Linked DNA regions of Homo sapiens. The protein of the gene in region 7 purifies or fractionates together with the protein of the main gene of each other region. This does not show direct contact. Each region holds a gene or a part of one and is shown on either strand. Other genes may lie near its edges. The genes, in order: TOX4, TMEM106B, EPB41L2, DDX42, CDK11B, CCNT1 and NSRP1.

The links.
Region 1: the proteins of NSRP1 (region 7) and TOX4 purify together in Homo sapiens (affinity purification with mass spectrometry, with the first as the bait; one large-scale study listed by BioGRID). This does not show direct contact.
Region 2: the proteins of NSRP1 (region 7) and TMEM106B fractionate together in Homo sapiens (co-fractionation; one large-scale study listed by BioGRID). This does not show direct contact.
Region 3: the proteins of NSRP1 (region 7) and EPB41L2 purify together in Homo sapiens (affinity purification with mass spectrometry, with the first as the bait; one large-scale study listed by BioGRID). This does not show direct contact.
Region 4: the proteins of NSRP1 (region 7) and DDX42 purify together in Homo sapiens (affinity purification with mass spectrometry, with the first as the bait; one large-scale study listed by BioGRID). This does not show direct contact.
Region 5: the proteins of NSRP1 (region 7) and CDK11B purify together in Homo sapiens (affinity purification with mass spectrometry, with the first as the bait; one large-scale study listed by BioGRID). This does not show direct contact.
Region 6: the proteins of NSRP1 (region 7) and CCNT1 purify together in Homo sapiens (affinity purification with mass spectrometry; one large-scale study listed by BioGRID and IntAct). This does not show direct contact.

The regions. Positions count from the first base shown.
Region 1 is NC_000014.9:21,490,695-21,494,194, reverse strand, and holds part of TOX4 (TOX high mobility group box family member 4), read right to left. Parts: intron 1,900-3,500; coding exon 1,819-1,899; intron 1,688-1,818; coding exon 938-1,687; intron 1-937. UniProt on the Homo sapiens protein: Transcription factor that modulates cell fate reprogramming from the somatic state to the pluripotent and neuronal fate. In liver, controls the expression of hormone-regulated gluconeogenic genes such as G6PC1 and PCK1.
Region 2 is NC_000007.14:12,235,294-12,238,793, forward strand, and holds part of TMEM106B (transmembrane protein 106B), read left to right. Parts: 3' UTR 1-3,500. UniProt on the Homo sapiens protein: In neurons, involved in the transport of late endosomes/lysosomes. May be involved in dendrite morphogenesis and maintenance by regulating lysosomal trafficking.
Region 3 is NC_000006.12:130,864,246-130,867,745, forward strand, and holds part of EPB41L2 (band 4.1-like protein 2), read right to left. Parts: intron 3,337-3,500; coding exon 3,214-3,336; intron 1,390-3,213; coding exon 1,291-1,389; intron 1-1,290. UniProt on the Homo sapiens protein: Required for dynein-dynactin complex and NUMA1 recruitment at the mitotic cell cortex during anaphase.
Region 4 is NC_000017.11:63,808,670-63,812,169, forward strand, and holds part of DDX42 (ATP-dependent RNA helicase DDX42), read left to right. Parts: intron 1-150; coding exon 151-279; intron 280-890; coding exon 891-990; intron 991-1,843; coding exon 1,844-1,891; intron 1,892-2,406; coding exon 2,407-2,504; intron 2,505-3,262; coding exon 3,263-3,500. UniProt on the Homo sapiens protein: ATP-dependent RNA helicase that binds to partially double-stranded RNAs (dsRNAs) in order to unwind RNA secondary structures. Unwinding is promoted in the presence of single-strand binding proteins.
Region 5 is NC_000001.11:1,656,205-1,660,231, reverse strand, and holds the start of CDK11B (cyclin-dependent kinase 11B), read left to right. Parts: upstream 1-1,227; 5' UTR 1,228-1,318; exon of another isoform or gene 1,319-1,776; intron 1,777-2,733; 5' UTR 2,734-2,746; coding exon 2,747-2,857; intron 2,858-2,929; exon of another isoform or gene 2,930-2,967; coding exon of another isoform or gene 2,968-2,976; intron 2,977-4,027. UniProt on the Homo sapiens protein: Plays multiple roles in cell cycle progression, cytokinesis and apoptosis. Involved in pre-mRNA splicing in a kinase activity-dependent manner. Isoform 7 may act as a negative regulator of normal cell cycle progression.
Region 6 is NC_000012.12:48,699,708-48,703,207, reverse strand, and holds part of CCNT1 (cyclin-T1), read left to right. Parts: intron 1-2,134; coding exon 2,135-2,195; intron 2,196-3,367; coding exon 3,368-3,430; intron 3,431-3,500. UniProt on the Homo sapiens protein: Regulatory subunit of the cyclin-dependent kinase pair (CDK9/cyclin-T1) complex, also called positive transcription elongation factor B (P-TEFb), which facilitates the transition from abortive to productive elongation by phosphorylating the CTD (C-terminal domain) of the large subunit of RNA polymerase II (RNA Pol II).
Region 7 is NC_000017.11:30,182,816-30,186,975, forward strand, and holds the end of NSRP1 (nuclear speckle splicing regulatory protein 1), read left to right. Parts: intron 1-1,799; coding exon 1,800-2,859; 3' UTR 2,860-3,660; downstream 3,661-4,160. UniProt on the Homo sapiens protein: RNA-binding protein that mediates pre-mRNA alternative splicing regulation.

The DNA.
Region 1 (3,500 bases), on a different chromosome or scaffold from region 7:
ATGTCCAAAGTTTAGGATCCTTGGGTAACAACTCTGAATAATAACTGTTTAGGCTATATCCTGTCCAGTTGAACTAGTGACCTCTGCTTAGTTAAGGAGTGGTCTGGGGCAGAAGACTGTCTTAATGTATCTCACTAAAAACACTATGGGGCACACGGTGGCTCACGCCTGTAATCCCTGCACTCTGGGAGGCCGAAGCGGGCGAATCACGAGGTCAGGAGTTCAAGACCAGCCCAATGAACATGGTGAAACTCTGTCTCTAATAAAAATACAAAAAATTAGCTGGGTGTAGTGGTGGGCGCCTGTAATCCCAGCTACTCGGGAGGCTGAGGCAGGAGAATCACTTGAACTAGGAGGTGGAGATTGCAGTGAGCCAAGATTACACCACTGCACTCCAGCCCAGGCAACAGAGCGAGACTCCGTCTCAAGAAAAACAAAACAAAACAAAACAAAACAGGGCGGGTGCAGTGGCTCACACCTGTAATCCCAGCACTTTGGGAGGCCGAGGCAGGCAGATCACCTGAGATCAGGAGTTCGAGACCAGCCTGACCAACATGGAGAAACCGTCTCTACTAAAAATACAAAATTAGCCGGACATGGTGGCACATGCCTGTAATCCCAGCCACTCGGGAGGCTGAGGCAGGAGAATCTCTTGAACCCAGGAGGTAGAGGTTGCAGTGAGCCGAGATCGCACCATTGCACTCCAGCCTGGGCAATGAGTGAAACTCCATCTCAAAAACAAACAAACAAAAAAAAAACAGTATGAGTACCTTGGGTAAGAGAAGTCAACTGCTGCAAGGAACTCCCATCTGCAGGATGTTTTGTGCTCCTGGTTGCTGGGCATTAAATGCTAGTAGCAACCCCCACTGTTATTGGGTCAACCAAAAACATTTTTATACATTTCCACTAGACTAAAGACTTAAAAACAAAGGCTCACCTCAGGAACTACATCTGTGATCATCTCACAGATAGTCTCAGGAGAAGGTGCCTCCACTGTATGGGCCTCAGGGCTGTTGTTCATAGGCCGCTCAGGACTACTTTCCACAGTTGGTGGGACTAAGGTAGTCTGCATTTTCAAAGTGGGTAGAGGCACACTCTTGATCTGCAGAGGAGGAGGCTGTTGCTGTAAATTGATTCGAACTTTCTGAGGTGGAGGCTGTTGCATGGCCTGGAGTGGAGGAGGCTGCTGCAGAATGGTAACTTGCTGCTGAGTCGGGGGCTGTGGCATCTGTTGTAATGGAGGGGGCTGTAGTCGGGGTGGAGGCAGTTGCATAGAAGCAGCAGCAGCAGCAGCTGCTGCTGCCTGCAACACTGACCGAGTGACAATCTGGGCTTGTTGACTGGGCTGGATAGTAGCTGTACTGGTTTGGCCTAGTTGGAGCCCCCGGGAGGTCACCACTGTGGCTGGGATAACAGTAACCATCCCTCCTTGAGACATAGTAATAGAAGAGGGCAACATTTGTTTGGTAATAATCAACTTGGTGATATTGGGCTGACCCCCAGCTCCAGAAGATGCCTGGTTTGCCACATAGGATGAAAGGGTGGAGTTAACAACAATGGATGGGGACAGGGCAGGGGGCTCTATTGAAGCTGGTGCTGGAGATGCTGGGTCAACAGTAGCCATAGGAGGTGGAGAAGGAGTTTGTGATGGTGGTGCTGGATCCAATTCCACTGTTTCCACAGTGGCCTAAAAGAAGACATAAATCAATCTATCAATTAATCAATCACTTGGTGGTATTTACTTCTTAAAACTGCTAACAAACACTTCCAAAAAACTTCTTACTGGTTTAAATATTCATTCTATCCTATCCCTCTTACCTGACACTCCTGGTTGTCTTTGTAAGCAGCCAGTGCCTTCAGATACTCTTTCTTGGCAGCCTCAGTTTTCCTCTTATATACCTGCAAAAAAGAGACTTTAAAAAAAAAAACAAAACTCCCCATACTCTTAGGAAAGACTGATAGTTCTGTATTATTTATCAATGAATGACAATTCATCTTAGTCTAATCACTGACAACCTCTATCAGTGAATTCAATTCTGAAAGCTAACAGTCAAGACAACCTCCATGGCAGACTCACTCCACTGAGCATACCTCTGAAAGACAACCAATCGACAGGAGTCTGGCAAGAATAGCTACATTTATTTTATTTTGCTACATTTATTTTATTTTTTTTAAATTTTTTTTGAGACAGAGTCGTGCTCTCTCGCCCAGGCTCGAGTGCAGTGGCGTGATCTTGGCTCATTGCAAGCTCTGCCTCCCAGGTTCATGCCATTCTCCTGCTTCAGCCTCCTGAGTAGCTGGGACTATAGGCACCCGCCACCACGCCCGGCTAATTTTTTGTATTTTTAGTAGAGATGGGGTTTCGCTGTGTTAGCCAGGATGGTCTCGATCTCCTGACCTTGTGATCCGCCTGCCTCTGCCTCCCAAAGTGCTGGGATTACAGGCGTGAGCCACCACGCCTGGCCGAGAATAGCTACATTTAAGGCAAACATCAACCCATGCTCACTTCTGTAACAAAAATAAACCCTAATCTGCCAGGTGCGGTGGCTCACGCCTGTAATCCCAGCACTTTGGGAGGCCAAGGTGGCCAGATCACGAGGTCAGGAGATTGAGACCATCCTGGCTAACCTGGTGAAACCCGATCTCTACTAAAAAAAACAAAAACAAAACTAGCCCGGCGTGGTGATGGGCGCCTATAGTCCAGCTACTCAGGAGGCTGAGGCAGGAGAATGGCGTGAACCTGGGAGATAGAGCTTGCAGTCAACCAAGATTGTGCTACTGCACTCCAGCCTGGGCGACACAGTGAGACTCTGTCTCAAAAAAATAAATAAATAAATACAAAATAAACCCTAATCCAAAAACTGTGTCTTAGCCTGGGACTGTGTCTAACCAGTATATTTTCCCTTATGGAATGTGGTAAATTGTTTGCAAAGATGGCCACAACAACTCCTCCCATATGACCTTTCTCCCTTCAAGAGCTGAAGCCTATTTCCCCCTCCTTTGAATCTGGGCTAGCTCTAAAAAGTTTTTAAACTCTAAATCCAAAAAAGAAAAAGAAAGAAAAAAAATAGGCCAGGTGCGGTGGCTCACACCTGTAATCCCAGCACGTTGGGAGGACAAGGCAGGCGGATCACCTGAGGTCAGGAGTTTGGCACCAGCCTGACCAACACGGTGAAACCCTGTCTCTACTAAAAATACAACATTAGCTGGGTGTGGCGGCACATGCCGGTAATCCCAGCTACTTGGGAGGCTGAGGCAGGAGAATCACTTGAACCCAGGAGGTGGAAGTTGCAGTAAGCTGAGATTGCACCACTGCACTGCAGCCTGGGTAACAGGAGCGAAATTCCATCTCAAAAACAAACAAACAAGTAATTCTAAATCCAAACTTGGTAGTGGATTTGAGAGTTAGCCACAGCATGCAGCTTATCAAGTAATAGCCTAATTTTATAAATGGGGGAAAAAATGAGACTTAGAAAAGTTAAATATCTAAAAATTGAACA
Region 2 (3,500 bases), on a different chromosome or scaffold from region 7:
AAGAATAGTATGAAAATATTAGATACCACATAAATTGTTTGAAATTACTGAATAACCATCTTAAGTATGGAACATTTAAATGGCTATATTTTATTTGTGTACAGTTTTTCTGTGCCTTGTTAGGCCAGTGAAGCAATTATTTTCTCTAAGAAAATGACAATAAAATATAACACACTTCAGATTGTCTGATTTACAGTTTGGAAAGGACACCGCAATGTTCAAATAGGTAGGAGACCATCAAAAACACAATTAAAGTAACATATTAGGAGACTTGAAACTTCAGCCTAATAAATCCTTCATGGTTCTTAGCCTTATTATTGTGATATAATTCTAGATATTTTCTTGGAGGGCATGTGCCCAACTCTCCCGCACCCCATTTTGTTTGTCTTTTAAAGTTCTTAGAATAAACAGTTCTTTATATAATAATTATATTTTATTTAAGAAAATAGTTTGTTAGGTACTTTTTAAAAGATGTAAATTTTTAAATTTACAAATACATATGGGTCTTTGATAAGCAATAGGAATTGAATTACAAGTTACTAGGGTTATAAGCAAAAGGTTGCTTACCATAATGTCATTAGGTCACGATTTTTAGCTCACATCTGGAAGCAGCAACTACTTGGCTCAAGTACATATAAGAGTAATTAGTTTTATTCTCTCTTTTTTATAAAATCGGGTTTCAGATGAGATGTTTATCTTAGACTATTTTAGGGAAAAATTTTACATGTTTGAGATGGTGGAGTAAAAAGACTGTTAAACATTTCTTTTAAAAAATTATTTTTACATTACAACAATATATTTATGATGTGTTCAGATCAAAAATTTAACTTCTGTGTCCCAGATCTACTTTCAAAGTGAGATTTTCACTTGTCAGCTTAAATTTCTGACTAGAACTAACATTTGTGTATTTTTGTGCTTAGTCGGAATACAAATTTCACAGTGGATTTTTGAAGTTTGTCCTTAAATTGGATAAAATCAAGTGATTAAAGTTACTAAAGAGATAAAAATGGTAATTTCCATTTTTAAAAGTAATTTGGTTGTGTTTATAGTTATTTGTACAAGTATTTATCACAGACTCTAAATTGAAAAATGTAGTATGATCTATATTTGACCCTAAAAATGTTGGATTAATTTAACAAATATGGCAGATTTTTCATAACTAAGTCTTAAGTCTTCTAAAAGGAAGCTGTTACCCTTCTGTTTTTAATTACATTAATTGAAATGTGTTTTAAGAGATACAATTTCAGCATATTTTATATATTAAAAAACAAAAAAGGATTAGTATTGAGCCAGTGGCCAAAAGGTAATATTACTACCATGTAGACTGTTATAGTTCAAATTGTCCCACTTCACCCAGAATTTTAGAAACTAGAAGTCTGGGAGGTACTATATCAGCTGTAGTTGGGTAATTCCAAGTGCTGATAGTACTATTCATCTTTTTTATTATTGTGTCAGATGAAACAAATGCCAAGTTGCAAAATATGCAGATTTTTATTATATAATGGTTTTAGGCATAAATTATTAACAAGCCATGCCTTATGTGTTTCATCTTATATTTTTCTTTAGAACTAAACTATAACAGATTTTGGAAAATGATTTGACGTGCTTGCTCACTTGATTGACTTGGTCAGATATTTGAATGATGGTATTACCTAGATTCTAATCCTTGATTCTAGTTATATAATAAATAATATAGAATATGAAAATATGTTTGGGCATTTACTGTTTATATTATGTAGTAGCCTCCATCATGACACACTTACTACATTTATGAATTGAGCAGTTCTGTAATTGTAATTATTATTGCTGTTCATGTAACAAAACATGCTTATAATAGCAAACAAATAGAAATGCCCCCAAAATGCTATTTTTTTAATTCAGTTATAACTGTTACTCTTGTAGTTGTGTATGACGCAATAAAATTTGTAAAAAAATTTCAGCATGAAAAATAAAATTTGTATCACTTATGTATTTTGGCTATGCTTTTGAAATTTCCTTAACATAAACAAATCAGTGTAGATATTCAAAATCTTTTACCTTTAATCCTTTTCATCCTTATAGTCCTTACCTGAACTCTACTTTAGCATTATCTTTGATTTCTTTTTTTCATTCACTTAACTTCCAATCAGTACTCAAGCTTTATCCATTCTACCTCTGTAATGTCTCTGGAATTTATCTCATACGTGAAATTTCCCTTGATATTATAGACATACCTTGGATATATTGCAGGTTTGGTTCCACACCATATCGATAAAGTGATATAATCAAGCAAGTTACACACCTTTTTTTGGTTTCCCAGTGCATATGAAAGTTATGTTTACATCATACTGTAGTCTATTAAGTGTGCAATAGCATTATGTCGAAAAACACAATATATATGCCTTAATAAAAAATAGGCTGTGTGCAGTGGCTCACACCTGTAATCCCAGCACTTTCGGAGGCCAAGGTGGGAGGATCACCTGAGCCCAGAAGTTCAAGACCAAATTGGTCAACATGGCGAGACCCCATATAAAATATATACATACACACACACACACACACACACACACACACACACACACACTATTGCTAAAAAATGTTAACGATCATCTGAATGTTCAGAAGTTTATACTCCTTTTGCCGGCACAGGATCTTGTCTGGATGTTGTTTGCTGATAGATCCATGTAGTGGTTACTAAAGTTGGGGTGGCTATGGCAATTTCTTAAGACAACAATGAAGTTTATCACATCTATTGCCTTGTCCTTTCATGAAAGATGTCTCTAGCATGTGATGCTGTTTTGATAGCATTTTACCAATGGTAGGTCTTTTTTCAAAATTGGAGCCAGTCCTCTCAAACCCTGCCTCTGCTTTATCGACCATGTTTAAATAATTTTCTAAATTCTTTATTGTCATTTCAGCAGTGGTCTCAGCATCTTCACCAGGAGTAGATTCCAACTCAAGAAACCACTTTCTTAGCTCATTCATAAGAAACAATTCCTCATCTGTTCAAGTTTTGGCATCAAGTTGTAGCAATTCAGTCACATCTACAGACTCCATTGCTAAATTTTAGTTCTCTTGCTATTTCCACATCTGCTGTGACTTCCTTCACTGAAGTCATGAACCCCTCAAAATTATCCATGAGAGTTGAAATCAATTTCTTTCAAACTCCTGTTAATGTTCATATTTAGACCTCTTCCCCTGAATCACAAATGTTGTTAATGGCATCTAGAATGGCAAATCCTTTCTGGAAGGTTTCAATTTACTTTGCCCAGATCCATCAGAGGAATCACTACCTATGACAGCTATGGTCTTACAAAATGTATTTCTTATATAGTAAGATTCAAAAGTCAAATTTACTCCCTGATCCATGGCTGCAGAATGCACGTTGTGTTAAGAGGCATGAAAACAACATTAATCTATTTGTACATCATCAGAGCTGTTGGGTGACCAGGTACATTGTCAATGAGTAGTAATACTTTGAAAGGAATTTTTTTTTCCAAGCAGGTCTCAACAATGGGCTT
Region 3 (3,500 bases), on a different chromosome or scaffold from region 7:
TGGTTTTGACTGATGGATTCTGAGCATACAAATTTATTTGCTGATTTTGTTTATTGCATTTAGTGCAATAATTTTAAAAAGGATTTGCTTTGGTTTCAGATACGGAAGATGGATGAGATTTTTGTTGAATGTTTGATTTGATGACACCCTGCGTAAGTAGTCATACACGTAGACATGGCGCATGGCTAGACAAAGGCTGCGAGCGGGGCTGGAGGAGGGAGCTCCTGGGGGAACTGCCTCACAGCGTTATGGGCTCCGTACAAGCTGCGAGTGCCTGGGGCACACTGGATGAGGCTGAGGAGATCATCTGGCTGTGACCTTCTAAACAGTCAATAAGCAAATACCACACGGTCCTGGGAAAGCGCACATCCAACATTTACAACTCTGATAAATGTACACTCTCAGTCACAAGTGACAGCATTTTACCATAACAAACCAGGCTTATCACTATGCTTAATAACTGGATATGCTTTAAAATGAGCACCAACAGTACCTTGCATTTATGCGGCATTTTTAAATTTACAAATTACTTTTGCTGTTTTTTAAATTGTTGTTGAAACATGGGTTGGGAAGGGCACAAGGGACACCTTTAAGACCTTTAGACACTTATCCAAAGTAAAAAACAGAAGAAGGAAATAGTGGAAAATAAGGCTGGAGTTAGAAAGCTGATGACTTCAGCATGCATCAGAATCACTGGAAGCTTCTTAAGACAATTCTAAGGTTTCAGGAGGACTGGAGTGGGGCCACGCTATTTATACTTCTAACAATGCCCCGGGTGAAGCTGATGCTGCTGATCCAGGGATGACTGGTTACCCAGTGCTAAACATTTAGAGAATTATGCAGGGAGGAACAGGGGAATGCCCCAAATCAGTATACTAGCGATCTTAAATGAGGGAAATTCTACATTATTTGAACAACTTGCTGAAAATTCTGAATGATGGCCTTCATTCATTCGCTTTAGTCAGGAGGGCTGGTTTAATAAAAGTAGAAGCACAAGTTTGTTTTTATAAATTATAAATTTTATTAAATTATTTATGGTTTTGTAGCTATCTTACATATAGCTATTCGTAACATATTTTTACCCCCTTGTACTTCACAAAATTGCAATTTGGCTTGAATGCATTTGTCAATGGAGCCTAATTTCTTGGATACTTTAAACCAAGGCATTTTGATTCCGCTGGCACTGTCTGTATCTTACTTGGAAGTGTGTACAGGAAGAGAGAAACAATTCAGAAAAGATTCTGTCTGTAATGTACCATCCTCTCCATATGATCCCCTGCATTGCTTTACCTTGGTGATGTGTGTGGTTGTCGTTGTTGACACGGACTCAGATGTGATGGTTTGTGCGGTCAGTAACGTGCCCGAATCACCACCAGCCCCGCCATCAATCTTTGGATAGTTGGGGGAAAAATACAAAGTAATGCTTAACTTCTGTTATGTTGTCAGAGAAGATCCCCGCCCCATCGAATATGCATCTTTTAAAATCCATGTGGTTTGCGTGTTTGCAGTAGTAATTACCATCCAGGAGAGCGGCTGGTATTTGAAACCGAGTAGAGGCAAAAGGCTAGGTGCACATGGAGAAGCAAACTCAACTGTGTGAGTGGAGAAAAGAGAGGAGAATGGACATAGTAGGTGGGACTGAAAGCTACAAGGGAATTATGACAGAATTTGTCTGAAGGACTTTTGCACAAGCTAGAAAATGAAACTAGAGAGCCAGGCAGAGAAGTTTCCACAGTGACCAGAAGCGCTGAGTTTGTTGTTTTTTAAGCACAGGTGGGTAAAAATAGATAAACATTTTATCAAATTACCAAGCAACAGAACCTGACCAGGACAAACTGAATCTGCATGATTTGGTTATCTGCTTACCTCTAGCGATTGTTTTCATCAACTACATTGTTCCTGTAATAGTTTGCATGTTGTGAGCATATATACGGGCACATATATTTCAATACTGCACATACGCATGTGCTCCTACATATATATAAATCCCATACATATGTTAAAATAGATTTTAACTTGTTTGCTTTGATATTGAAAGATGCAGAAGATTCTAGAGTTTCCAAGGGGAATCAATGAAGCAAATTAATAGCCTAACAGTTTATGTTAAGATCACGAAACATATTTGCCCTCTGTTTCCTGACACTGACACGAGGAAATAACTGGACGGTCCAGAGCCTTTCTGACTGTAAGAGGAAATCTCTTTCAAACTTGGGTCATGCACCTGTATGTCTTCATTCTGGCAACTTATCACAGCACAGACACATCACTAATGCTCCCCCGCCAAGCTGTTCATAAGAAACCTATTTGTGCTTATGTGGGATCAAGGCACACACAAGGATGCCATATCCAAAATAATTTTCAGATGTGTTTCACACATGCATGCATTAAACCTTTTAAAAAATATTCTGAGAGGTCAATAACCTGACATCCTCCACCATGATACAATTCTACCACAGAAGGTTCATCTTCTAAGTGGAGAAAATATTTATTTTATATTCTATTTTGAAATCATGAATGCTTTATCTTTTTTTGTTATTCTTAAGGTTAAACATCTTAATGCTTATTCCAAATCTTTACAGAACCAATGTGTGAAAACCTAAAATCAAACACACAAATCTGATAATTATTTAGACACATGGTATCACCATTCACATATGAATGACTACATAGGTCTTTAGAAAATAATTCCACACGAAGGAGAAGCACAGGTGTGTGTGCCTGTGTGTGTTTGTGTGTGTGTGTGTGTGTATGTGTGTTATTACAAGCAAGAATGAGTTGATTGGGTCAATCTTCACGGAGTTAGAGAGGGAAAGAAGCCTAAATCACATCCACAATTAGATCGGATTATTATTAATCGATGAATTATATCAGATAAACTTTGCAAGACAATTTGTTTCCTAAGTGTACACAAACATTCTTAGATATGTCAACTCAGAAATGGCTTTCAATCATATGAACAAGATTGATACTGTCTGTCCTAAATAATCATATGTACAGTTCCCCTATAATTACTGGGTTACCAATTTAATTGCAGCTCTCTGTCTCAATCTAAGAGAACATAGCAAATTATGTTGTTGAAGTACACTTACAAAGTGCAGATACAAAAAGCTACATCAAAGCCAGAAACATGTAAACTAAGAGAAGAAAGAATGAAAACATAGATACACTAAGGGAAAAAAGAGCTCGAACAGTCCAAGTCTAGAGCTTTTGTACCTGTGGAGACTCATATGTGATGGTTTTGGTCTCAGTTTGGACAATGGGGACTTCCTTGGTGGAGATTTCTGTCCTTTGTGAGGCATCAGAAATTGTTACCATCTCTGTTTTTACCACTGGTGGCTGAGGTGGAAAAGGAAGGGAAAAATAAATTCTAGAGGTAATAAAGTAAAAGTGTTTAATGGAACCTTCACAAATAATAGTAAGAAACATATCCAAACACACACTCATGCACAAAAGAAAAGAGTAAAAGCAAACAACCTAAAACAAACAAAAGAAATAAAAGA
Region 4 (3,500 bases), about 34 Mb from region 7:
ATACCTTTATGAATAAAATCGTGGTTTTAAAGTATGTTCTAGGTTTCGATTTTTTATGACATCACATTCTGTTTTTCAGAACTTCGTTTGGGTTGTGACAGGTATTTGTTAGTGTCACAGTTTGTTAATATATTATTCACAACTTTGTAGATCCATGCAGAATGTAAGCGGTTTGGAAAAGCATATAATCTTCGATCAGTGGCCGTATATGGAGGAGGGAGTATGTGGGAGCAGGCCAAGGCCCTTCAGGAGGGGGCAGAGATTGTTGTGTGTACCCCAGTAAGTATGCCTTGTGTTTAAATGGCTTCTCAGCCTCCCTCGGTATGGAAAACATGATTAGTTTTGCAGAGAATTTCCCCTAAAGTGTGGTAAAAGCAGGGTTGAAAATATACTGATGAACGGCAGGCTGTGGTTTTAATTTTGATTGGTGGCTAAATTAGCAGTTCAGTGAGAGTCTCTGTGACATATAGGCTAGTAGCTACAAATTCCCCTCTATGTCAAATAGTTTTTCTTATACTCTCCCACAAAATGATTGCCAAGTTCATCAAGAATCAGAAAGATACATATGGTCAGAATAGCCTAGAAGAGTGTAGTTTAAACATTGAAACCTGTCATTATGCTTTAAATCAGGTCACTTTAGAATGCCTCAAAAACTGCTTCTGGCCACTTTCCCACAGAATTTAAATCACAGTGTAAATGAAGATGCCGATTGAGTTTTCAAAATTTCTGTTCCTTTGAGCTAAGTAGTGCATAAGGTATGTGGCTGTTGGACCAGTATCTATTACAGTCTGAGACTAGAGAATTAGCACTTTTGCCAGGAGTGCAACTGCTTAGAAAGTCCCTGTGAATGCCTTTAATTATACTTACTGTTCATTTTGTTGATCTTATAGGGTCGACTGATAGATCATGTGAAAAAGAAAGCTACCAATCTTCAAAGAGTCTCTTACCTTGTGTTTGATGAAGCAGATCGAATGTTTGACATGGGATTTGGTATGCCTTGAATACCAGTTTCTTCTGTCCCCATCCTCATGATACTAGTTTTTTTTCCATGTCTTTCTAGACTGTTTTTTCAGCATGAGAGAAGCTAAAAATACTCCTGGATGGGGTTAGACTATAGAAATATAGCTAAGATGAACATTTTTAGGAGTTTTCTCTGGAAAAGTATGTTAGGTTTTATTGGGTTGAGGAAATTTCAAAGTGCCTTTGTATATAAGGGGAATATTTTCTCTGTCTTCATTTTTATCCATATGCCTTTGATCATAGAGGTTAAGGTCTGTGTTCTTGGGTAGATGAATGTCAGATCATTCGAGGCCCTTTGCTTTCCTATCCTCGTAGCTGTCTTTACTGATTGGAACACTGCTAGACCTAGCCCAGTTGGATGGAGGGAAAATTTTTCACTTTTATGCTGAATGATATGTTTAGGAGCTTCTTTTTTCTTGAGACAGAGTTTTGCTTTTGTTGCCCAGGCTGCAGTGCAGCGGTGCGATCTCACTGCAACTTCCTCCTTCCAGTTTCAAGCGATTCTTCTGCCTCAGCCTCCTGAGTAGTTGGGGTGATAGGCACCTACCCCACAGCCTGGCTATTTTTTTTTTTTTTTTTTTTTGGTATTTTTAGTAGAGATAGCTGTGTTGACCAGGCTGCGAACTCCTGACCTCAAGTGATCCGCCTGCTTCGGCCTCCGAAAGTGCTAGGATTACAGGCATGAGCCACTGTGCCTGGCCTGGGGTTTCTAATTTTCTTAATTCTTACAACTTCTTATGAAGACTTTTACTAATATGGCTTTTTCCAGGCTTCCCAAACTGTATTTCAGGTTATAATAATTTTATTGTTCTGTTTCTTGCAGAGTACCAAGTTCGATCCATAGCAAGTCATGTTCGTCCTGACAGGCAGAGTATGTATGAAGCACCTTTGTTAAACCAAATTTGTACTAAAAAGGGCACTTATTTATTTTATAAGCACTCAGAGTTATGGAAGTAAAAATGATCTTGTGTCTGTTGGTGAGAACCATAATAAGGGAGGTAATGAGTTTATCTGAGCTGGACAGGATCTTAGCACTAGATATAACTTGTTCCTTTTTATAGATGATAAAACCAAGGATCAGAAATTAAATAAACTGCCCTAAATTATACAGTTTTATCAGTGGGTAGAAGCAGTGTACAGTACAGATCTGCTGATTTGAAATCAAGAGTCTTTTTCTGAACCATACTGACAACTTGTCTTAACTAAAAATGTAATAAAAATAGAATAAGAGCAAATCTTTCCCTAGTGAATCAGTTTCTAAACTAAATTTAAAGTTCAGGTGAGCTTATGTAAAAAAACTGAATAATCCTGAATGCCAAAGAAGCTTAATGGGTATGCATAAAGATATCATATTGTTTCTCTAACAGAATTTATCTTACCTTTTAGCTCTCTTATTTAGTGCAACTTTTCGGAAGAAGATTGAAAAGTTGGCCAGAGACATCCTGATCGACCCTATTCGAGTGGTGCAGGGAGATATTGGAGAGGTAACCCTAAGCAGGGCTGGATGGGACCTTAATGGGTTTATTTCTCATATTATGGAACACAGAATTAATTTCTCACTATTGAGATAAAAAAAAAAGATGTTATGTTTATAGATGCAACATGCTTGAGATTGGGTATTTTGCAAGTTGTGGGGATAGACGTAACAAGACTGGCAAAATGTTGGGAATCATTGAAGCTAGGTGATGGGTATGAGTTGATTTTGTTCATTTTGTGTTTTTTTTGTTTTATTGAATGTCTCAAAACTTACAATTGTTTTAAAAAGGCTTCAAAGAGACAAAAAGATGTGCCTGGAAGCATCAGCGTATTAGGTTGGAACTGACGTTTTAATTATTGTGGTAGGGGCCTACGCAGGAGGGAAAGGGTGACCTGGAAGGCCTGGAAAAAATCAGGTTTCATTTCTTACCTGTACATATGCGCTATGTGAAAAATTACTCTGAATTGGGACTTGGAATTCAGTTATGGCTGCTTAGAGAATCCTTCAGTTGCTTGCCATGGTTATTGTTAAGGAAAGCTCTACAAAGTAGTGGGGCATACAAATTAGGTATGTACACCAGGTGGAGAGCAAGGTGATTGGAAAGGAGAGGTGAGTTTTGAGCTGCACTTGACTTGCTGAAGGCCCAAGGAGAACTGGGATTGTTCAAGGTCTTCTCGATGCAGGTAGAAATATAATGCCTAGTCCTTGTTCAGGTGCCCTGTGGCTCCAATGTCACAATCATCTGTTTCATTTCTTCCTTCTCAGGCAAATGAAGATGTGACACAGATTGTGGAGATTCTCCATTCTGGACCTAGTAAATGGAACTGGCTTACCCGGCGTCTGGTAGAATTTACCTCTTCAGGGAGTGTCCTCCTCTTTGTTACTAAAAAAGCCAATGCTGAAGAGCTAGCGAATAACCTTAAACAGGAGGGTCATAATCTTGGGCTGCTCCATGGGGATATGGATCAGAGTGAGAGAAACAAGGTCATTTCAGACTTTAAGA
Region 5 (4,027 bases), on a different chromosome or scaffold from region 7:
AAGAGCTTGGGTACACAAAGCAAGCAGCATTTCATTCCGGGATGAAAAAAATTCCGATACCCATCGCCCTTCTTGGGCCCTTGTCAGTTTCTTGCCACATCTTTCATTTTCCCATTTCAGGCCCAGTAAATGCGGATGTTTATCTTCCATTGTTTGTTTCCTGAGATTCAGATGTCTAAAGCATTTTTCTGTGACTTTTCAAGTCAAGAGGAAAACCTGACATATGGAAAGGGAATTAATTGCTCGTTTTATCCTCTTCTCCTGCAATGCTCTGAATCCATGGGTTTGGAGTGGGGCCCTGGGAGTTGGGGGAAGCACCATACCCAGTGAGTCTGCACTTTGAGGACCCACTGCCAGTGTCAGCTTCAAAATCACATTGTAAAAGGCCGGGCGCGGTGGCTCACGCCTGTAATCCCAGCACTTTAGGAGGACGAAGCGGGCGGATCACTTGAGGTCAGGAGTTCGAGACCAGCCTGGCCAATATGGCGAAACCTCGTCTCTACCAAAAATATAAAAATTAGCCGGGCGTGGTGGCGCGGGCCTGTGGTTCCAGCTACTCGGGAGGCTGAGGCAGGAAAATTCCTTGAACCCGGGAGGAGGCTGCAGTGAGCCAAGACCACGCCACTGCACTCCAACCTGGGCGGCAGAGCAAGGCTCCGACTCAAAAGTAAATACATGAATAAATAAAATAAAATCACATCGTAAGAGCTCTCCCTGCCCTGTTTCTGAGTAAGGTTCAGAGTTAAATTCCGAGATCGGCCTTTACAAGACACACAGACCTGAGGCGCCTCACGAGGTAACCAGCAGGTAAATGGAGCGCGCTCCACCCACCCGCCACTAGGGGTCCCAGCGGTCAAGGGGGTGGAATGCGGGCGTCCATCGCGAAGGCATTCTGCTCGCAAGCCTTGGCACAGGCGCGGGCTTCGCTACCGGAAAAGTCCCGGTAGGATTCCGGAAGCCGGCCACGCGTTCCGCGCAGGCGCAAACTGCTCCAAAAGTGGGCGTCGCTCCTCCGGAGTCCCGATTCCTGCGTCACAGCCCGCGCCGAAGTCGGAAGTGCGCTCACCGGGCTGTTTCTTCTGGCGTCCTGGACCTGAGCAAGCGCTGTTTTATGCGTTATCATCCCGCGCAGACACAGGAAGTGCCGCACAGAGCGAGCCCCTGTCGTTGTCTCGAGTTCTGGGCCGGAGGTCGGCTATTATATCATCATTACGCGCCAATACAGGAAGTGACGATACTTTTGGCGCGCGCCGGTTGCTGTTTCTTCTCTGGCTCCGGGACCGGCGGCGGCGGCGGCGGCAGCGGCGGCGGCGTAGGGGTGAGTTCCGACTGGGCGGACCAGGTGTGGGAGCGCGAGGAGAACTGCGCACCGAGGTCTTTCTTCCGAGCAGGCCTCGGAGCGGGGCGGACCCGGGCCCGGGGGCGAGCGACACCCTCGCTTCCGCGGACAGTCTCATCCCGCACGGAACTTTGGGTGGTGGAGGCGGCGGGTCCAAACGCTGTCTGGAGCCAACGTCTGCCAGGCTGAACCTCAAGTGTGCGGGACTGAACCCGAGGAAATAGCCCAGTGCCCGGGTCAGGTGGCCTTGTTCGCGAGCACATCTCGGAGCATCTCCCCGGTCTCAAGGTGCAGCTGTCCAGTGTGCTAGTGGCTTCACGTAGTCCAAGCGGTCTTTCTAGCAGATTCTGACAGTAAAAGCAGTGTTTGATGAGTGGCAGGTCCTGAGTTAAGAGCCTTTAAACGGATGATCTTTAATCCGCGATCGATACTATCACGTAGGTGTTGTTATTCTGGTTGTACGGAAGACTAAACTGAGGTGAATTACGTTACCCAAGACCATACAAGAATGACAGAAACGAGACTTGATTTCAAGCGGTCATTTTTCAGAACCCATCACTCTTTTTTGTCGCCCATGCTGCAGCGCAGTGGCTGTTCACAAGCGCACTTCAGCCTGGAACTCCTGGGCTCAATCGGTCTCCCATCTCAGCTTGCAGAGTATATGGGACTACAGGCGCTCGCCACCTTGCCTGGCTTACAACTTATCATTCTTGTTTTTTTTTCTTTTTTTTTTGAGACGGGGTCTTGCTGGAGTGCAGTGACGCGACCTCGGCTCACCGGAACCTCCGCCTTTCGGATTCAAGCGATTCTGCTGCCTCGGCCTCCCGAGTAGCTGGGATTACAGGCACCCGCCACCACGCCCAGCTAAGTTTTGTATTTTTAGTGGAGACAGGGTTTTCGCCGTGTTGGCCAGGCTGGTCTTGACCTCCTGACCTTGTGATCCACCCGCCTCAGCCTAGAGCTTACTTTTTTTTTTTTTTTTTTTTTTTTAACCAAGTCTTACTTTGTTATCTAGGCTGGAGTGCAGTGGCGCAGTCTTGGCTCATTGCAGCCTTGACCTCTCTGATTCAAGTGATCCTCCTGCCTCTAGCAGCCTCCTTCCTGTAGCTAGGAATACAGGCACGCGCCACCACACTGGGCTAACTTTTGTATTTTTTGTAGAGACGAGGTTTTGCCATGTTGCCCGGGCTGGTGTTGAACTCCGGAACTCCAGCGATCTGCTCGCCTCGGCCTCCCAAAGTGCTAGGGTTACCGTCTTGAGCCACTGCGCCGGGCACAACTTCTTATTCTTAATGAGGATTTATTCTGAATCCCTCAAAAGTGACTAGGTTCAAGTGTTCAGCACCATAGCTTGCTGTGTCCTGATGTAGGCTGAATTATTTTTCTTTTTGCAGTGTTTTAACTCAAATGGGTGATGAAAAGGACTCTTGGAAAGTGAAAACTTTAGATGAAATTCTTCAGGAAAAGAAACGAAGGAAGGAACAAGAGGAGAAAGCAGAGATAAAACGCTTAAAAAATGTAAGCCATATTTTTTAAGTAAGTGGTTTTCTTAAAGGAGATTTAATTTCTTTGCCCTCATTTTTCCATTAGAACAACGCTTCTTCGGTGAAGTTCTTTTGTACTTCCAAATGTCGCAGGTGAGCCCAAAATCTATTCTAAAAATTAACAAAAACATTCAAATATTCAGTTGACATTAAAGGCAGATTTAACACACTAAAGCTGTGTCTAGATTGAGCATACATGGAGAATAAAATACGTTGAATGTTAAGTCATTAGCAAAACTGGACTAATTTTTCTCGGTTCATTAGTATGTTCATAATACTATCTCTAAGTATTTTTAATATAGTGGGAACTTGCCTTGAAATTAATATAAATATTTTACATCTTTCTTGGTTTGCATGGTAATGTACTCAGGAAACCTTTTTAGTAATTTGGTAAGAGGCATTGGCAAAGTACCTCTTTTGCTAAGATCTTTAGCAGCATCATTTGGGATGTTAGTGAGTACAGGCATACCTTGTTGTATTGCACTTCACTTTATTATGCTTCACAGATATTGAAATTTTTCCAAATTAAAGGTTTGTAGCAACTCTGCATTGAGCATTTTTCCAATAGCATGTGCTCACTTTGTTAGCTTTTTTTTTGTTTTTGAGACGGAGTCTCGCACTGTCGCCCAGGGCCGGGTTCACGCCATTCTCCTGCCTCAGCCTCCCAAGTAGCTGGGACTACAGGGGCCCACCAACATGCCAAGCTAATTTTTTGTATTTTTTAGTAGAGATGGGGTCTCACGGTGTCAGCCAGGATGATCTTAATCTCCTGACCTCATGATCCACCCACCTCGGCCTCCCAAAGTGCTGGGATTACAACAGGCATGAGCCTCCGCGCCCGGCCTTTTTTGTTTGTTTTTGAGACAGTCTTGCTCCATTGCCCAGGCTGGAGTGCAGTGGCATGATCTCAGCTAACTGCCACCTCTGCCTCCTGTGTTCAAGCAGTTCTCCTGTCTCAGCCTCCTGAGTACCTGGGACTACAGGCACCTGCCAGCACGCTCGGCTAATTTTTATATTTTTAGTAGAGACGAGCTTTCACCTTGTTGGTCAGGCTGGTCTGGAACTCCTGACCTCAGGTGATTCACCTGCCTCACCCAGCCTCCCAAAGTGCTGGGATTACAGGCGTGAGCCACCATGCCTGACC
Region 6 (3,500 bases), on a different chromosome or scaffold from region 7:
CTCTTGACCTTGTGATCCGCCCGCCTTGGCCTCCCAAAGTGCTGGGATTACAGGTGTGAGCCACTGCACCCGGCCACCCTGAGCTTCTTTTCCTGCAACTAGATGGTCCCATCTACGGGTGATGGGAGACAGTGACAGATCATCAGGCATTAGATTCTCATAAAGAGCAGGTGATCATTTCACCTCAGCCTCCCAAGTTGCTAGGACTATAGCTGCGTGCCACCACTCCCAGTTAATTTTTATTTTTTTGTAGAGATAGGGGTCTTACCATGTTACCCAGGCTGGTCTTGAACTCTTGGCCTTCAAAGAATCCTCCCATACTGGCCTCCCAAAGTGTTAGAATTCCAGGTGTGAGCAACCATGCCTAGCTACATTTTTTTTTTCTTTTTTTGAGATGGAGTCTCGCTCTGTCACCCAGGCCGGAGTGCCGTGGTGCGATCTCAGCTCACTGCAACCTCCACCTCCCAGGTTCAAGAAATTCTCTGCCTCAGCCTCCTGAATAGCTGGGATTACTACCTGCATTCACTCTATGGAACAAGCCAAGGTTCACGCCCACCATCACACCCAGCTAATTTTTTAGTATTTTTAATAGAGACAGGGTTTCACCATATTGGCCAGGCTGATCTTGAACTCCTGACCTCGTGATACACCTGCTTTGGCCTCCCTAAGTGCTGGGATTACTGGCGTGAGCCACCGCACCCGGCCCATTCTTTATTTTTTAACTGTCTAAAAAATCCAGTGTATTTTATGGTTATAGCACGTTTCAATTTAGCTACATTTCAAGTGATGAATGGCTACATGTGGCTAGTGGCTATAGCTTTGGCTGGCACAAATCTGAGTGAATTTTCTTATTACCTTTTCCTTTGAACTCTTCTGTTACTTTTTAGAAACCTAACATGGCCCCAAAGGGGAAGTTCTAATAGGAGCCAAATGTTTGGTATTAAATGCTTACAGTACTGTAGGAAGGTTCTGCAAATGTATTTTGGTGATGTTGAAAAATATATACTTTATGGCCAGGCGCGGTGGCTCATGCCTGTAATCCTAGCAATTTGGGAGGCTGAGGCGGGTGGATCACCTGAGGTCAGGGGTTCAAGACCAGCTTTGCCAATATGGTGAAACCCCGTCTCTACTAAATATACAAAAACTAGCCGGGCGTGGTGGTGGGCTCCTGTAATCCCACCTACTCGGGAGGCTGAGGCAGGAGAATCGCTTGAACCTGGGAGGCAGAGGTTGCAGTGAGGCGAGGTCGCGCCACTGCACTCCAGCCTGAGCAGCAGAGCGAGACTCCCTCTCAAAAAAAAAGGCCGGGTGCGGTGGCTCACGCCTGTAATCCCAGCACTTTGGGAGGCCGAGGTGGGCGGATCATCTGAGGTTGGGGGTTTGAGACCAGCCTGACCAACATGGAGAAACCTCGTCTCTACTAAAAATACAAAATTAGCTGGGTGTGGTGGTGCATGCCTGTAATCCCAGCTACTCGGGAGGCTGAGGCAGGAGAATTGTTTGAACCGGGAGGCAGAGGTTGTGGTGAGCCGAGATTGTGCCATTGCACTCCAGCCTGGGCAACAAGAGCGAAACTCCAACTCAAAAAAAAAAGAAAAAAGAAAAGCAAAAAATACATACTTTTAATTTTCTTTTCTCTAAATCACATGAACCATAAAACTTAAATATTAACCTGAAAATGAACCAAATATATGGTGCTTTTTCTGTAGCCATATATAAACTGTTACCTCTCAGCATACTACTTATTTATTTATTTTTTAAAGAAAATGTGTACTGAATGGGCATAAGGGATAAAGATTGTATTTCACAAAAAAATTAGCCGGGCGTGGTGTTGCGCGCCTGGAATCTTAGCTACTTGGGAGGCTGAGGCAGGGGAATTGCTTGAACCAGGGAGGTGGAGGTTGCAGTGAGTCGAGATCACACCACTGCACTCCAGCCTGGGTGACAGAGGGAGACTCTGTCTAAAAAAAAAAAAAAAAAAAAAAAAAAAGATTGTATTTCAGTTCTTAACTCTACCTCCTAACTCCACTCATGCCTTTTATTGTTTTGGTTTCCCTGGAAGGGATTGTTAGAATTGTTTATACTTTATATATTGTGCCTTTGTAGGGAATAATTTCTGTCTTCTCACTTTTAGGCTTATTTGCAACAAGTTCAAGATCTGGTCATTTTAGAAAGCATAATTTTGCAGACTTTAGGTAAGTTTATTTTCCTTTGAAACATTTTTTTAAATTATGCAATAAAATGATTTGATTCTAAAAATTTGCTATATAGGAAGAATATTTCTTGGGAAAGTTTTTGTAGTGTCCCTCTGTTTCCAGATGATAGAGGTTGTAGACCTGAGTTTAGCTTTGACCTGTTCCATAGAGTGAATGCAGGTAGTACAGCTGACCTTTGAAACAGCAGCCAGTGGGTTATTATTTTTTTCATTCTAGGGTTATTTGCTTTTTAAGTTTTGGTGATTTTTACCCCCAAAAATTATAAAAACTATCTAAAGAATGTTTTTCCTTCCGTGGATTGTTATGGCCTGTAACAGCATTTGTTTTTAAAATTGGTAACTAGTGTTTAGAACAGCAGAGTGAAAGTGGGGGAACTTAAGCTTTAGTGGTTGCATGGGCAACTCTGATGATATTGTGTTATTATCTGTTATTTTCATCACACAGGCTGCCTTTAGAAGTTTAGAAAATATGAAAATACAGATTTTTTTTTTCCTGGTTCTTTTGGGCTATCATTTTTCTCTTCTAGGTAGGGTAAGATTTCATGAGTTGTACGTCAAAGTTATTGGCGTAGACACAATTTTTTTTGTACATATATATATATGATGAGTTCTTCAAAGTTTATCTCTCAATTTATTCTAGTTAACTTTTTTCTTTTTCTTTTTTTTTTTTTTTTGAGACGGAGTCTTGCTTTGTCGCCCAGGCTGGAGTGCAGTGGCACAATCTTGGCTCATTGCAACCTCCGCCTCCTGGGTGCACGCCATTCTCCTGCCTCAGCCTCCAGAGTAGCTGGGACTACAGGCGCCCGCCACCACGCCCAGCTAAATTTTTGTATTTTTAGTAGAGATAGGGTTTCACCGTGTTAGCCAGGATGGTCTTGATCTCCTGACCTTGTGATCCGCTCGCCTCGGCCTCCCAAAGTGCTGGGATTACAGGCTTGATCCACCGCGCCCAGCCTCTAGTTAACTTTTTTCTTAAAATATCTTCAAATTATATTTCATGGGACAATGATGTTTTTCTGGTGGAATAAATTTCTATTAATATTTTAGTGTGGAAACCAGTAAGGTGTAATTTACAATCAGTTATCCTTTTACAATAATTTGTAAAATGTAAACTTCTTAATAGTTTTTTAATCCATTACTTTTTCTTTTAAGGCTTTGAACTAACAATTGATCACCCACATACTCATGTAGTAAAGTGCACTCAACTTGTTCGAGGTAAGGAATCCCAGCTTATGAAGACTATCTCAAGCTGTTTTCCCATTTAGAGGTTGTGGTTTGTGGTGGA
Region 7 (4,160 bases):
CCCAGCTACTTGGGAGGCTGAGGCAGGAGAATGGCGTGAACACAGGAGGCGGAGGTTGCAGTGAGCTGAGATTGCGCCACTGCACTCCAGCTTGGGTGACAGTGCAAGACTCTGTCTCAAAAAATAATAATAATAAATAAATAATAAAATTAAGTAAATAAAATTTAAAGTTTTGATCACAGCGGCCACATTTCATATACTCAGTTGCCATATTTGGCTGGTGGTTGCCATACTGGGGACAGCTCACATATGAACATTACCATTTCTTGAGGCATTTCTATTAATGCTGGTCTAGAAGGTAAAGGATTAGAGGATTTTTGAATAAAGTTATAAGGTATTATAGGAATGGTGAGATGATTATGCCATAATTATGTAGCTGAAGGTAAAAGAGTCTGTCCTAAGCAAAAAAAAAAAAATTTTTTTTAACAGGAATGTTCTGGGTAGATCTGAGTCTGTGTTGCTAAGGAAGGGAAGAGGTAGGAGAATAGAATTAAGGTGAGGAGAGGAAGTTTATGCCCCACTCCCTCCCTACGCTGCTAGGCTTTGATTATAAAATTGGTGAGAAGTATGAACCTAAGAAAATGTATTTGAAGATTCAGGTTTTGAATGGAAATTATATTACGTTATATCTTTGTATTAGAGTTTCATCTGGAATATTTATTAGGCTGCCATGAAACTCTGTAATGTCGTTGACATAGTTGTACTTCTTAGAGTCTAATAATCGAATTCCTAACTGTTAGTGGGTCCTTTAGCCAAGATAGTTCTGCCAGTAATTCCTGGAGAACCAAAGTTGTTGCACCATTAGTGTGATTAGTAAGTGATTAGTAAGAATCACTGAGTGGTTCTTATTTACATTATACTCATACTATAAAGTTAACTGTACTTGCCAGCTGGAACAATGAAGGTAATATAATTTTAGTATTGTTGATTCTAATGGACAAATTAATATATTTCCATTTTGTTGTGATAGGTGCCAAGGAGTGAATCAGGATACACTCATGAGAGAGAGTAAATATTTAGGATTATATTTGCCACTATTTTGCTGTGCAAAGATTATCTTCATGTATTTCTAGGACTATTTTTATAATTTTTTAAAAAGAAAAAGGCCAAGCATGGTGGCTCACACCTGTAATCCCCGCACTTTGGGAGGCCAGGGTGGTTGGATCACCTGAGGTCAAGAGTTTGAGACCAGCTTGGCCAACATGGCAAAACCCTGTCTCTACTAAAAATACAAAAATTAGCTGGGCATGGTGGTGCAGGCCTGTAATCCCAACTACTCGGGAAGCTAAGGTGAGAGGATCACTTGAGCCTGGGAGGCAGAGGTTGCAGTGAACCGAGATTGTGCCACTGCACTCCAGCCTGGGTAACAGAATGTCTCAAAATAAATAAATAAGAAAGGAAACAACAAATCCAACAGTCACAACTTAAGCTTCATGTTGTGAAAATAGAACTTAGATTCAGAACATTTATTACTTTTCCCAATTATTCTTTGTCTTAGGCTTACCAAAAAATGAAGACCTGTACAGACCCTTGCCTGTAGGTTCTAGTAGTATAGTAGACAAGGGCTAATTTTCTCTTTTCACTTCTACAAATATTGAAAATATTCTGAATGGTATGAATTTGAAAATACTAGTTTGCATAGACATCAGGACCTTTTTGCATTTGGATAATCAGACAGTATATATCACTATAGGTGTATTGATTTGAGTATTGATAAAAATTATATGAACCCTTCATTTGCTTATTACAACTGATAATGTGGCATTTTTTTCTGCCCTTTTTTGTTTTTTGTTTCTAAGATCTGGTATAAAGGAAGAAAAATCAAGGGGCTTCTCCAATGAAGTAAGTTCAAAAAACAGAATACCACAAGAGAAATGCATTCTTCAAACTGATGTGAAAGTAGAGGAAAACCCAGATGCAGACAGTGACTTCGATGCTAAGAGCAGTGCGGATGATGAAATAGAAGAAACTAGAGTGAACTGCAGAAGGGAAAAGGTCATAGAGACCCCTGAGAATGACTTCAAGCACCACAGGAGTCAAAACCACTCTCGGTCACCTAGTGAAGAAAGAGGGCACAGTACCAGGCACCACACGAAAGGATCACGAACGTCGAGAGGACATGAGAAAAGGGAAGATCAGCACCAGCAGAAGCAATCCAGAGACCAAGAGAACCATTACACTGACCGTGATTACCGGAAAGAAAGGGATTCTCATAGGCACAGAGAGGCCAGTCATAGAGATTCCCATTGGAAGAGGCATGAACAGGAAGATAAACCAAGGGCGAGGGACCAAAGAGAAAGAAGTGACAGAGTATGGAAAAGGGAGAAAGATAGGGAGAAATATTCCCAAAGAGAACAAGAAAGAGATAGACAACAAAATGATCAGAACCGACCCAGTGAGAAAGGAGAGAAGGAAGAGAAAAGCAAAGCAAAGGAAGAGCATATGAAAGTAAGGAAGGAAAGATATGAAAATAATGATAAATACAGAGATAGAGAAAAACGAGAGGTAGGTGTTCAGTCTTCAGAAAGAAATCAAGACAGAAAGGAAAGCAGCCCAAATTCTAGGGCAAAGGATAAATTTCTTGACCAAGAAAGATCCAACAAAATGAGAAACATGGCAAAGGACAAAGAAAGAAACCAAGAGAAACCCTCTAATTCTGAATCATCACTGGGAGCAAAACACAGACTCACAGAGGAAGGGCAAGAGAAGGGTAAAGAACAAGAGAGACCACCTGAGGCAGTGAGCAAGTTTGCAAAGCGGAACAATGAAGAAACTGTAATGTCAGCTAGAGACAGGTACTTGGCCAGGCAGATGGCGCGGGTTAATGCAAAGACCTATATTGAGAAAGAAGATGATTGATGGCTACCCCAAGAGAAAGATTTAAGGAAGCACAGAAAACTGTAATTCCTGGAACCTGCTGCGTAAAACCATAAAGGAGTGTGTTACCAGTAGTTTGGAGGGCATTTTTAAATTTATTTTCAAAATTTTAAGTTAAAAGTCAGTCTTACAGCTTGGATGTTTGGATGTGGATGTTTGGCTGAATTTATATATAGTGTGTACTCATCAATACCACATTCTTTGTTGTATTCAAGAACCGTTAAGAGTGTGCTAATTCCCTGTAGGTACATAATGAGGAAAATTTGCTCCACTACAACCATTAAAAAATAATTTTGGCCAGATACGGTAGCTCGTGCCTGTAATACCAACATTTTGGGAGGCCAAGGCAGAAGGATATTGAGGCTAGGCATTCAAGACCAGCCTAGGCAGGATAATAAGACCTTGTCTCTATTTAAAAAACAAAAAGCCTAGCATGGTAGTCCATGCCTGTAGTCCCAGCTGTTCGAGAGGCTGAGGCAAGAAGATCACTTGAGCCTAGGAATTTGATGTTACAGTGAGGTATGATCATGCCACTGCACTCCAACCTGGGCAACAGAATGAGACCCTGTCTCTAAAAAATTTTTTTTAAATAAATAATTTAACTCTTCTAATAATGTTTTGTTGCAGGAAATGTATTTCAGATAAAATATGGATTTGAAAAACAGAAAATATACTTTATGTTCTGAAATTTGTATTTAAGTATAAAATGTGAATCATCTTGTCTAAATAGCTTACAGCATAGTTGGCTTAAATGAAAATAAAATGATATGCTTATACATTTTATTTATGCATTTATTTTAAAATAATTTTACTCATGTCACAATTCATCTTTTCGCTTTTAGTAGAAATTAATTTGTAATTCTGAAACCTTGACAAGTTAGTAAATTGGTTATATATGTAAATCACTTTTAGTTAAAGGTGAAGCTGTGGAGACATTAGCCTAAATGAAATTAGCTAAAGATCTAGGTGGCCTGTTTCTAAACATGTCTTGTTTCACCTACTCTGAAAAAGATAGTGCAGTTTATTACAAGTTCCACTTGTGTATAAAAATAAAACTAGTATCTTTCTTCTGAGTCTTTGAAACTCAGGAGAAATAATTATACACTGTAAATATTTTATTTATGGGGAAAGATGAATGCTGTGGAGAAAATAGTTCTCTACTAGGTCTTCCCATTAAGAAAATGCTGTTCATATATCTCACAATACTCTACCTAAAGAGCACACTTTCTTATTTTTAGAAGGATAAACTTGGTTTAATAAGAATGCTGACTAGATGAAATATA